2 separate regions of the Homo sapiens genome follow, and region 2 is linked to region 1. The links come from fine-mapping of genetic effects on gene expression. A gene starts in region 1. The other region holds a variant in brackets. All regions are shown on one strand. Distances are between the middles of the regions.

Region 1 (5,376 bases):
ACCTGGCCAATATGGTGAAACCCAGTCTCTACTAAAAATACAAAAAATTAGCCAGGCGCGGTGGTAGGCGCCTGTAATCCCAAGTACTCGGGAGGCTGAGGCAGGAGAATCGCTTGAACCCAGGAGACGGAGGTTGCTGTGAGCCGAGTCCGCGCCATTGCACTCCAGCCTGGGCAACAAGAGTGAAACTCCGCCTCAGGAAAAAAAAGAAAGAAAGAAAATAAGAAAGACAGAGAGAGAGAGAGAGGAAGGAAGGAAGAGAGGAAGGAAGGAAGGAAGAGAGGGAGGGAGGAAGGAAGGAAGGAAGGAAGGAAGGAAGGAAGGAAGGAAGGAGGGGAAACTTAGTGGTCAGATGGCAACTAGGGGAGGGGAGGCAGAAGGTAATTTATTTTTCATTTCATATCCTTCAACTATCAGAAATTTTGTCATATGTGTTTATATTTTCCACTGTGTTTCATTGATTCTAAAATGCCTTTTCTTCATAACCCTGAAATTGGAGTGTTTCTTACAATCATTGGTATGTCACATTTTTTTCTGGCTTGTGGTAATGGGTTAAAATGATAAATTGTAAAATCAATGACGTCTTAGGAATAATGAAAAATAGTTTAATAGTGAATGAAGAACTATGTAATTTTAACTGTTCACATTTACTCTTGGGTATGTTTCCAGAGGATAACTGAACGGGGATAGATTTTAAAAAGCTTTATTTAACTGGGTACTTCCGCAATTTAGTGATCAACTTCTGTGTACAACAAGGTACTGTCCTTTGAGGATGATGGGAGAATACAGGGAAGAACGAAATCGCCTCTGATCGTACTTTCTCCACGGATGTAAGTGTCCGGGCTCTAGTGGGGGAATGATACTCTTCGTGCGAAATTCACTTTTAAAAAAGGCTTAGAAAACTGACCACCGGCTCTCAGCTGCAGCTTATCAACCACAGAACTCCGAATATGCCCGCACATCAGTGCGCTGGGTTAAGAGGAGAAGGGGCTGCGGCTGAGCTTTCCTAGAAACAGCTATTTGGGGACCCATTTCCTGTTGGAGTCTGAAAGGCGCACGCACCAGAGCCAGTGGCAAAGCAACTTAAGCTGCAGGCTCCTCCTGCCCACCCCCAGCCGCGACGCCCCTGGGGGCCCTTAGCAGACTGCCAAGCGAGTGTCCCCGCCCTGTGCCTTGAATTTAGCCAAACTCCTTTAATATCAGGCCTGGCGCGGTGATTCACGCCTGTAATCCCCGCACTTTAGGAGGCTGAGGCAGGAGGATCGCTTGAGGCCAGCAGTGAAATTAGCCGGACATGGTGGCGCGCGCCTTTCTGTGGTCCCAGGTAATCCGGAGGCTGGGGCGAAAGGGTGGCCTGAGCCAGGGAGATCGAGGCTGCAGTGAGCCGTGTTGGCGCCACTGCACTCCAGCCTGGGCGACAGGGCAAGACCCTGCCTCAAAAACAAAACAAACTGTAATATCGTTCAAGAACGTGTGAAGGACACTTGGAAAGTTACCAGGCCATTTCTCTCCTGGGCGCCCGCGGCCCTAGAACGCCGGCCTCACCGGCAGACGCGCGCCCTCCTCCCAGATGCGCAGGTGACCCCGGCGGGCGGCGCGGGAAAGGGAAGAGCTCCGCGAGGCCGCGCGGGGGGGAAGCGGGAGAAGCCGCTCTTCCTATTCCACTCGCAGTCTGCGTGTGGGGGAAACGAGTGCCCGGCGTATGAAACGCCTAACTTCGCGAAATAAAGAGAGACGTATAAAAGTTCAAGAATTCTGTCCAGACTCAAGGGCCCTTTCTCATTTAGGGGCAACCCTGTCACTACATCATAAACTTTTAAATCCGTGATCCCCACGTTACAAAAGCAGAAGTCCCTTTTAGACTTTTAGCGAAAACTGAACTTTGCCGGTGTCCCACACGGAGGGAGGGAGGACGGGAGGCCACGCCAGGGCTGCGGGGCTGCAGGGCGTGGACGCATCCTGGCCGGGGCGTCCACTGTCGACGTCTCCACATCCCAGGAGGGTCGAGACGGCCGCGGGAAGCAGCCTGCGAGCCGTGCGGCCCCATTCCAAGGACCCCGCCAGTGTGAGTCACTGACAGCTTCGCGAATCAACGGTGCCCAGAGGAAAAAACTTCTCATTTGGACTTCTAGGCCCGGCAGTGGCCGGCGGCCAGGGCCCCCCAGTAGGGCAGGGCGGGGCGGGGCGGGGCGCACAGAGCCAGAGGGGCTTGCGAGCGGCGGCTGAGGGACCGCGGGGAGGGGGCGCCGAGCGGCTCCAGCGCAGAGACTCTCACTGCACGCCGGAGGGCGCCCTTCCTCGCTCGCGCCCGCGCGACCGCGCGCCCCAGTCCCGCCCCGCCCCGCTAACCGCCCCAGACACAGCGCTCGCCGAGGGTCGCTTGGACCCTGATCTTACCCGTGGGCACCCTGCGCTCTGCCTGCCGCGAAGACCGGCTCCCCGACCCGCAGAAGTCAGGAGAGAGGGTGAAGCGGAGCAGCCCGAGGCGGGGCAGCCTCCCGGAGCAGCGCCGCGCAGAGCCCGGGACAATGGGGCCGCGGCGGCTGCTGCTGGTGGCCGCCTGCTTCAGTCTGTGCGGCCCGCTGTTGTCTGCCCGCACCCGGGCCCGCAGGCCAGGTGAGAGATGCACGGGAATGGGGTGCGCGGGCGGAGGGACGCCGAGGGGAGACTGCGGGGGTCACTGTTGCGCCTTCTCCTCACCCCTGCCTCAGTTTCCTCCGAAAGCCAAACTGGCATTTGGGCTGAGATCTGGAGTTTTTTCCAGTCACGTTTAGGTGGGGCGTGCCACCCCCTTCGCGGGCCCAGCCGATGCCCCTTTGGACTCGATCTTGGAGGGTGCAGCCCGCCTGCCACGGGGTGTTGGATATGGAGGAGGATGGAGCGGAAGCCCCCTGGGGGAGCCTGCAGTCCTGCGTTGCACTTGTCATTGTGTTTCTCCCAGGACCACCCCCAAAAAGAAAAGCTCTCACGTTGCTCCACCAATAAACGTTTCGATCTTTAAAATATAAAGTGGCGAACCGCTGCCGCTGAAGTTTTGCTTTGTTGGAAGTTTTTTTCTTGCACATTTTACAGGCGAGAAAAGTGATGTAGAGAAAAGCCCAGGCAGTCCCTTGGCATGTTTAGCAGAGAATCAGTACCAGCAGCCCCCGGCCCGGCCTTGTGTCCAGGAGGTGCGCAGGGTGCGAGATATATGGTGACAATAGCAGAGGCTCCGCGTGGTGGCGGGGGAGGGGACATGGAGAGGATTTTGTTGTTACCTAGAACCCATTCCTTCTAAGTGAGTTGAAGAGAGAGATCCCTCCCCAGGACCGGGCTCCCTCGAACACTGTGGGATCCCAGTATTTCTTAACGAGATTTCTGATCCACTGCAAGAAGGTTGCTCCCCTAGAATATTTTCCCCACTAGTAGTCTATTTTTAAGTATCTGGCCACTTGACCAAATAAATAAATTTGATTAATTTATTTGGTCAAATATTTTCTGTATCCCTTTCCCCAAGAGCAGCACAGATGAGTTGTTTTTAGCCTGTAAAGGCGCTAATTAGAAAGTGAGAAAAGTGTTTTTGAATTTCCTAATAACAATAGTATTTTATAAGCTTTGAGCCATTTTTTTTACGCTGAAAGAAGTTCTAGCGGGTTTTCTTGTTATCGCTAAAAGAATGTGCACTCTATATTGCTCCCACACTCAAAAAAAAGTGTAGACACATCAAGATTAAGAGGTGACAAAGACATAGCATGTTCTCGCCTCTCTGTCTTTGTTCAGGGTGAGTTTTGAGATGCTTTTGGGAAAACTAAGAGCTCCAGACTGGGGCCCAGTGTTTAGCAGTAACTAGCCTGCCTGCAGATAAGTGAGCATTGTTGCCGAAAGTGTTTGAGAGAACACCGAGAACTCCTGAAAAATTGTTTGCGATGAGATATGATTTCACATACCATTATGTAATTTGCACAATGTAGTTTGAGGACACGCTCTTGAGAATCCAGTGTTTTGTTTGAGATTTGGATCATGGGGTGGAGAACAGAGCTTATAGAAATGCTGCACCCTTTCTCACAGTGGCCTCCCAGCAAGGTGTGTAGCCTCATTAGGGAGTGAAGTCAAAGCGTACTGGTTTCTGCCAAGCTTCTTACATCCTCATGGCAGGAGTGGTGCATGTTAATATGGACAGTGCTGGTGTAGACAGAAAGGCAGGTGGATGAACTTGGCTAGTTTATCAACACTGGATTCTGGAACCACTTTGGGAGGGAAAGAAGAAAGGAGTATGATAGAGGAAAAGGAGCGCTTGCTAAGTGCCATATTCCATGTCAAGCCCTGGGCCAGAAGGAATTTTCACTTGGATTGTCTCATTTCACCTTGTCAAAACACCTTGTTAAGGTGGGTATTTATCCCCTTTTGCTGATTCTGCAACTAAGACCCAGAGACAGCGGCTAAGCAAGTGGTGGCGGGTGGGGCAGGGAAGGGGCAGTCCACCCACCCTGGGTGCAAGCAATTAGGAATAAGTGGGGCTTTGTCTTTAGAAAATTTAAAATCACTAATAAAATCAACCCAAGATAGGTTTACTTTCTATTACCACCATGCATTGACAATTCTAAGCATTGTCTGTCATAAGGTAGTGGTGCTGGGACTCTGAGGCATCCAACAGTGCCTCCCATCCTTGAACCGCCACCGCTGTGATAGAGTTTATTGTCCAGGATTACCAGCTCTGTGTGCCAAGAGGGGCGGTGAAGCCCTCCCAGGGCTGGCCCTGACCACCAAGCTGAGCCTTCCTCCAGCACTTCCCGACTTTTTGTTCCCACTCATTTTGGCATTTCCTGCCTTGTCACTTTGTGTGTGTGTCTCATTCTCCCAACTAAGATTATAAAGTTTTATTTATCCCCATGGTGACTAAAACAAATGTTCACTCAGCAGATAGTTGTTGAGAAATGTGTAAATTCATCAACCAGTTTACATTCGTCTAGACAATTTAAGTGAGATGATATGTGATCATTAAAAGGGCCAACATCCAAGAGTAAAAGGTGATGTTTATAAATTTTATGGGGCTCTAGAGGGTTAAAGTGTTCAAGAATAGCTGGTGGTGACTATGACAGAGAGAACTTGGTGGGCAATTCCACTTGCTACCCTCCTACTCACAGAGTCAAGCCCAATTCTCTGGCATGGAATGAAGTGCTCCTCCCCTTGCAGGAGGGTCCCCAGCCCCTCTCCAGCCATCTCCTATTACTCACCCTCCAGTTCACCCAGCCCCATCCTCTAGATCCTCCCTTCAAGGAGCTATGCTTTCTCTGGCTTCTGTCCGCATGCCACTCCCTCTGGCCAGAATGCCCTCCCCATATCCCATACCCGCCACGTTCATGTTTAATTAAAAACAGCTACCCTCTGTGGAGTACT
Region 2 (5,376 bases), 23 kb after region 1:
CGTAAAATGGCTGTGCTGTCTTCTCTGGCTGAATGACAGTCCTTTGCTGTCTAGCACTCCCTCAGGCAGAAGGGAGGAGGGGAAATTTAAAGCAAAATGACTAGTACTTCTCAAGGTTGAAAATAAAAAAATTTTTGATAAATTATTTCTAGAGTCATAGTCAATGAAAAAATTATTTCAACTAAACAAGGATTTTGTTAACATACAGAATTTTTATAAGTTAACACACAAGCTTTTTAAGTTTCTAAGGCCTGGACTTTTCACGTGTGTTTCAAGGAATAGATTGAGTTCAAAAAACCTTAAATTTTGCTAACACAAAAATTTTTTTTGTCCAGGCATGGTGGCTCACGCCTATAATGCCAACACTTTGGGAGACTGAGGCCAGAGGATCATTTCAGACCAGGAGGTTGAGACCAGCCTGAGCAACATAGTGAGACGCCATCTCAATTAAAAAATAAATAAATAATTAACCTGGCACGATGGCATGCCTGTGGTCCCAGCTACTCAGGAGGCTGAGGTGGGAGGATCGTCTGAGCCCAAGAGGTTGAGGCTGCAGCGAGCCATGATTGCACCACTGCAGTCCAGCCTGGGCAACAGAGTGAGACCATGTATCCAAAAAAAAAAAATGTTTTTTCCACCAAGCTAAAAATAGCATTTTTAAGGAAATGGAATGCTTGGCTATTGAATATACACTTGGAAAATTTTAGGTTATACTTCTGAATTTAAGAAATTTTAAAAACTGTTTGCCGTTGGCATGTCTTTGAGGAAGTTGAGCTACAGAAGCAAGTGGAAAAGGTTAAGCAGCATTGATGACCAAGCTATTTAAGTTTCTGGGGCCTGGACCATCCATTAGCAGCTTATCTTCAGCCAGGTGCTGTCGTGAAAATTAAGGGGAAAAACAGTTCACCAATGGTAATTTCCTGGCATAATTAGCCTGTTATGTGGCTATGCCTTTTGAAACTACTAGACCAAATGTGTGTGAAGAGTAATTGACCACAGGATAAACCTAATTGTGTTTTGTGAAGGAGGTGTGGTTAAGTGAGCTGCAATGTGAGAAGAGAGGAGAAATTCTCTAATGCAATTATTCTCAGAGTTCCTGAGACTCTCAGGAGATCTGCAAGGTCAAACTCTCTTCAAATACCAAGATATTATTTGCCTTTTTTGGTCTGTTTCTCTCATAAGTGGACAGATGAGTTTTCCAGAAGCTACACAACATGTGAAAGTGCAACAGATTGAATGCAGAAGCAGAGACGAAAATCTGACTGTCTCCTATTACACCAGTCATTAAAGAGATTGCAAAAATGTAAAACAATGCAACTCTCCTCCTTAAATTATTGTTTTGGGAAAAAATTTTGAAAAATATAGTATTTATTTTAACATGTAATGGGCTTATTGTCATTTTTAGCTGAAATAGATATTTTCAAAAGTTCTCCATTTTAATGTCTAATATGGAAAATATCAGTAGATAAAATCATTGGCAGCAGGGTGCAGTAGCTCACACCTGTAATACCAACACTTTGGGAGGCCAAGCCAGGCGGATCACGAGGCCAGGAGTTCGAGACCAGCCTGGGCAACATAGGTAAACCCCATCTCTACTAAAAATAAAAAACTTAGCTGGGTGTGGTGGTGCACATCTGTAATCCCAGCTACTTGGGAGGCTGAGGCACGAGAATCACTTGAGCCTGGGAGGCGAGGGTTACAGTGAGTCAAGATGGCATCACTGCACTCCAGCCTGGACGACAGAGCAGAGCAAGGCTGTCTCAAAAAATGAAAAAGAAAAAAAGTCAGTGATGTGCTGCTAAGCAGGATCTCCACAAAAAGAAAAAAAGCCTGATCTGGCAAACTAGCATTTGCCAATTTTGATGGTGTGAATACTCCCTTCTTTTCCAGTTTCAAGCTCCCAACTGTTTAACAGTTGGCTTGACAAATTTCCTGAATATTGAATTCTTGTGAGCAGGTACAAGTTGACTCCAGCACACCAATGGATGCAACCCACATAAACAAAGGCTCTTTGCTGGTCCTCAATAATTTTAAGTGTATTAAGGTGTTCTGAGCAAAAGAAGTTTGAAAACCACTGCCCTTATCCAAGATGTCCCAACTTTATTGACTTGAAGAAAACAGATAAACTGGTAATTATTATAAAAGCATAAAAGCAAACAGGGGTAAAGAGTTGGCTTAGAGCTGCAGGCACCACTCTGGGTTTCTGGCTGTTTCAGAGCTGAGGGGTTCCAAGTCTTGGAGCAAGAAACTGATTCAACATCCAGGCTCAGTGGCTCACGCCTATTATCCCAGCACTTTGGAAGGCTAAGGCGGATGAATGGTTTGAGCCCAGGAGTTCGAGACCAGCCTAGGCAAAATGGCAAAACCCCGTCTCTACGAAAAATACAAAAATTAGCCGAGCGTGATGGCTCATGCCTGTAGTTCCAGCTACTTGGGAGGCTAAGGTGGGAGGATGGCTTGAGCCTGGGAGGCGGAGGTTGCAATGAGCCAAGATGGTGC[C/A]ACTACACTTCAGCCTGGGTGACAGAGTGAGACCCTGTCACAAAAAGAAAAGAAAAGATACTGATTCACGTCATCAGGTATGGTGTGGTCCACAGAACAGGAAGCTCTGTGTGAGGTCTGATTTTCAGCCACCTGCTGTGTAAAGGAAAGAGAGAGGTGCTTGCTGAGCAAAGTTTCAGACCAGAAGACCAAGAGACAATTCAGAACAGCAGCAGATTCTACCCATGGTGGCATTCCTGTAAAGTGAAACTCAAGCGCCAAGTTTGTTGTCATGGGGACTGTTGATTGCATGCTAGTCTTATGGAAACACACGGAAAACCAGAGGTCAAATTCAGTAGCATCTCAGAATTCAGATAACACAGCATGTACAGTTTCAACCCAGCAGGCTGTGTGTTTATCACTTCAGGAAATGACTCATAAGCAGTAAGGAGATGAGCTTTGAAAGCTGCATCTGGCCAGGGCACGGTGGCTCACCGCTGTAATCCCAGCACTTTAGTGAGGCCGAGGCGGGTGGATCACCTGAGGTCGGGAGTTTGAGACCAGCCTGGCCAACATGTGAAACCCTGTCTCTACTAAAAATACAAAAATTAGCCAGATGTGGTGGCACACACCTGTAATCCCAGCTACTCAGGAGGCTGAGGCAGGAGAATTGCTTGAACCCAGGAGGCAGAGGTTGCAGTGAGCCGAGATTGTGCCATCCAGCCTGGATGACAAGAGCGAAACTCCATCTCAAAAAAAAAAAAAAGAAAAGAAAGCTGCATCTATAGTAGCCTGCATGGTGGCAGGGCCAGTCTGGCTGTTTTGCCTATCTTAATGACTACATCTGCAGGTCATTTTGGTGTGCTGCTATGCGACCCATCCAAGGAAGTGAAAACACCACGAAGGGTGGGCTGTCCAATACTGAGATGCATTCGTGAGCAAAACCATAATCATTTGATATCTATTTTTGTTGTTTTGTTTCCTATCCTGGGATATCTAGTTGCTCTTGAAACTAGCTGACACATATTTTAAAAAAAACAAGACAAATAATATATTCCCATCCTCCAGAAGCTAACTGGCTTTGGGATTTAATCCTAATACTTAATGTTTAGTTAGGAAGCACAAAATTTGAAGACCTCAGATTTAGAATTTTATCAGCTCTGCCTTGTAACAAGTTTTAGAAACTAAATCAGTTGGCCAGGCCTGGTGGCTCATGCCTGTAATCCTAGCTTTTTGGGAAGCCAAGGCGGGCGGATCACCTGAGGTCAGCAGTTCGAGACCAGGCTGGCCAACATGGTGAAACCCTGTCTCTACTAAAAATACAAAAATTAGTCAGACATGGTGGCACGTGCCTGTAATCCAGCTACCCGGGTGGCTGAGGCAGGAGAATTGCTGGAACCCGGGAGGCAGACGCTGCACTGAGCCGAGATGGCACCACTGCACTCCAGCCTGGGCAACAGAACGAGACTCTGTCTCAAAAAAAAAAAAAAAAGAAAAGAAAGAAAGAAAAGAAAAGAAACTAAATCAGTTCTCAACTCTGGTTGCGCATAGAATCACTGGAGAGCTTCTAAACAATTCCAGTGCCAATCTCTGGGGGCGAGGCCTGGACATTGATATTGTTTTCAAGCTCCTCAGAAGATTCTGATGTGTAAACCAGGGTTGATACTAAGAAAAGAAAAATCCCTCAGCAGTCTGAGCTATGTGAGGTGTGCAAAATTTATTAGGCCCAGAGAGACGGGAGTAGAGGACTTCAGTCACACCCCCGGCACATACCCTCCCCCTACCCACCACCCCCCATGCCTGTGGGCAATTATTTAAAGTCATTTTGTTCCTGGTGGTGTGGTAGCTCATGCCTGTCATCCCAACACTTTGGGAGGCCGAGGCGAGAGGATCCCTTGAGGTCAGGAGTTTGAGACCAGACTGGTCAACATGGTGGAACCCCTACACTCCTAAAAATACAAAAATTAGCCAGGCATGGCAGCATGCTCATGAAATCCCAGCTACTCGGGGGGCTGAGGCAGGAGAATTGTTTGAACCCAGGAGGCCAGAAGGTAGAGGTTGCAGTGAGTCAAGATGGCGCCACTCCAGCCTGGGCAACGGAGAGAGACTCCATCTCAAAAAAAAAAAAGGCATTTTGTTCCTGACTAGCTACATTCCCTGTTATCTTCATGTTCCTGGAATCTGTGATACAAAGAACAATGTGTATCCAATCAACAGCTTATGTTATTTTAATGTAAATTTTGATAAACAACTTAGGAACTGCCTCTTTTCCTTTATAAACATTCACATGCAACTGCTGCTAATCAGATTGTATATTCAGGACAACTTGAATATACACTTCAATATACACTGGGTTGCAGTCCTCAAGCTTGGCCCAAATAAACTCTCTACTTATATTAATTTTGACTCAGCTTCTTCCTTTTAGATCAACAATACCACTGTTTTTGAAAAGTGCTTCTTAGCTTATATACTGCTGGTGGGAATGTAAAGTATTAGTTCAGCCATTGTGGAAAGCAGTGTGGTGATTTCTCAAATAATTTAAAACAGAATTATCATTCAACCCAGCAGTCCCATTATTGGGTATATACCCAAAGGAATAGAAATCATTCTACCATAAAGACATCTGCGCACAGGTGTTCACTGCAGCACTATTCACAATAGCAAAGCTATGGAATCAACCTAAATGCCCACCAATGATAGACTGGATAAAGAAAATGTGGTACATATACCCCATGGAATACGATGCAGCCGTAAAAAAGAACAAGATCACGTTCTTTGCAGCAACATGGATAGAGCTGGAGGCCATTATCCTAAGCCAACTAATGCAGAAACAGAAAACCAAATACCACATGTTCTCACTTATAAGTGAAACTAAACATTGAGTACACATGGACACAA

The links.
Region 2: its variant is fine-mapped to the expression of F2R in whole blood (TOPMed, PIP above 0.99).

What each region holds. Positions count from the first base shown.
Region 1 is chr5:76,713,780-76,719,155 of GRCh38, forward strand. F2R (coagulation factor II thrombin receptor) reads left to right here and starts at 2,347. Exons shown (of 2, transcript NM_001992.5): 1 at 2,347-2,616. The coding sequence starts at 2,529. RefSeq lists a silencer at 2,153-2,402 and enhancers at 4,196-4,696, 4,697-5,197.
Region 2 is chr5:76,736,308-76,741,683 of GRCh38, forward strand. No RefSeq gene overlaps it. Among named protein-coding and RNA genes, the nearest start is that of F2R, 23 kb to the left of the region's middle. RefSeq lists enhancers at 2,613-2,942, 3,043-3,112, 5,246-5,325. The variant C/A (reference allele first, on the strand shown) is at 2,500.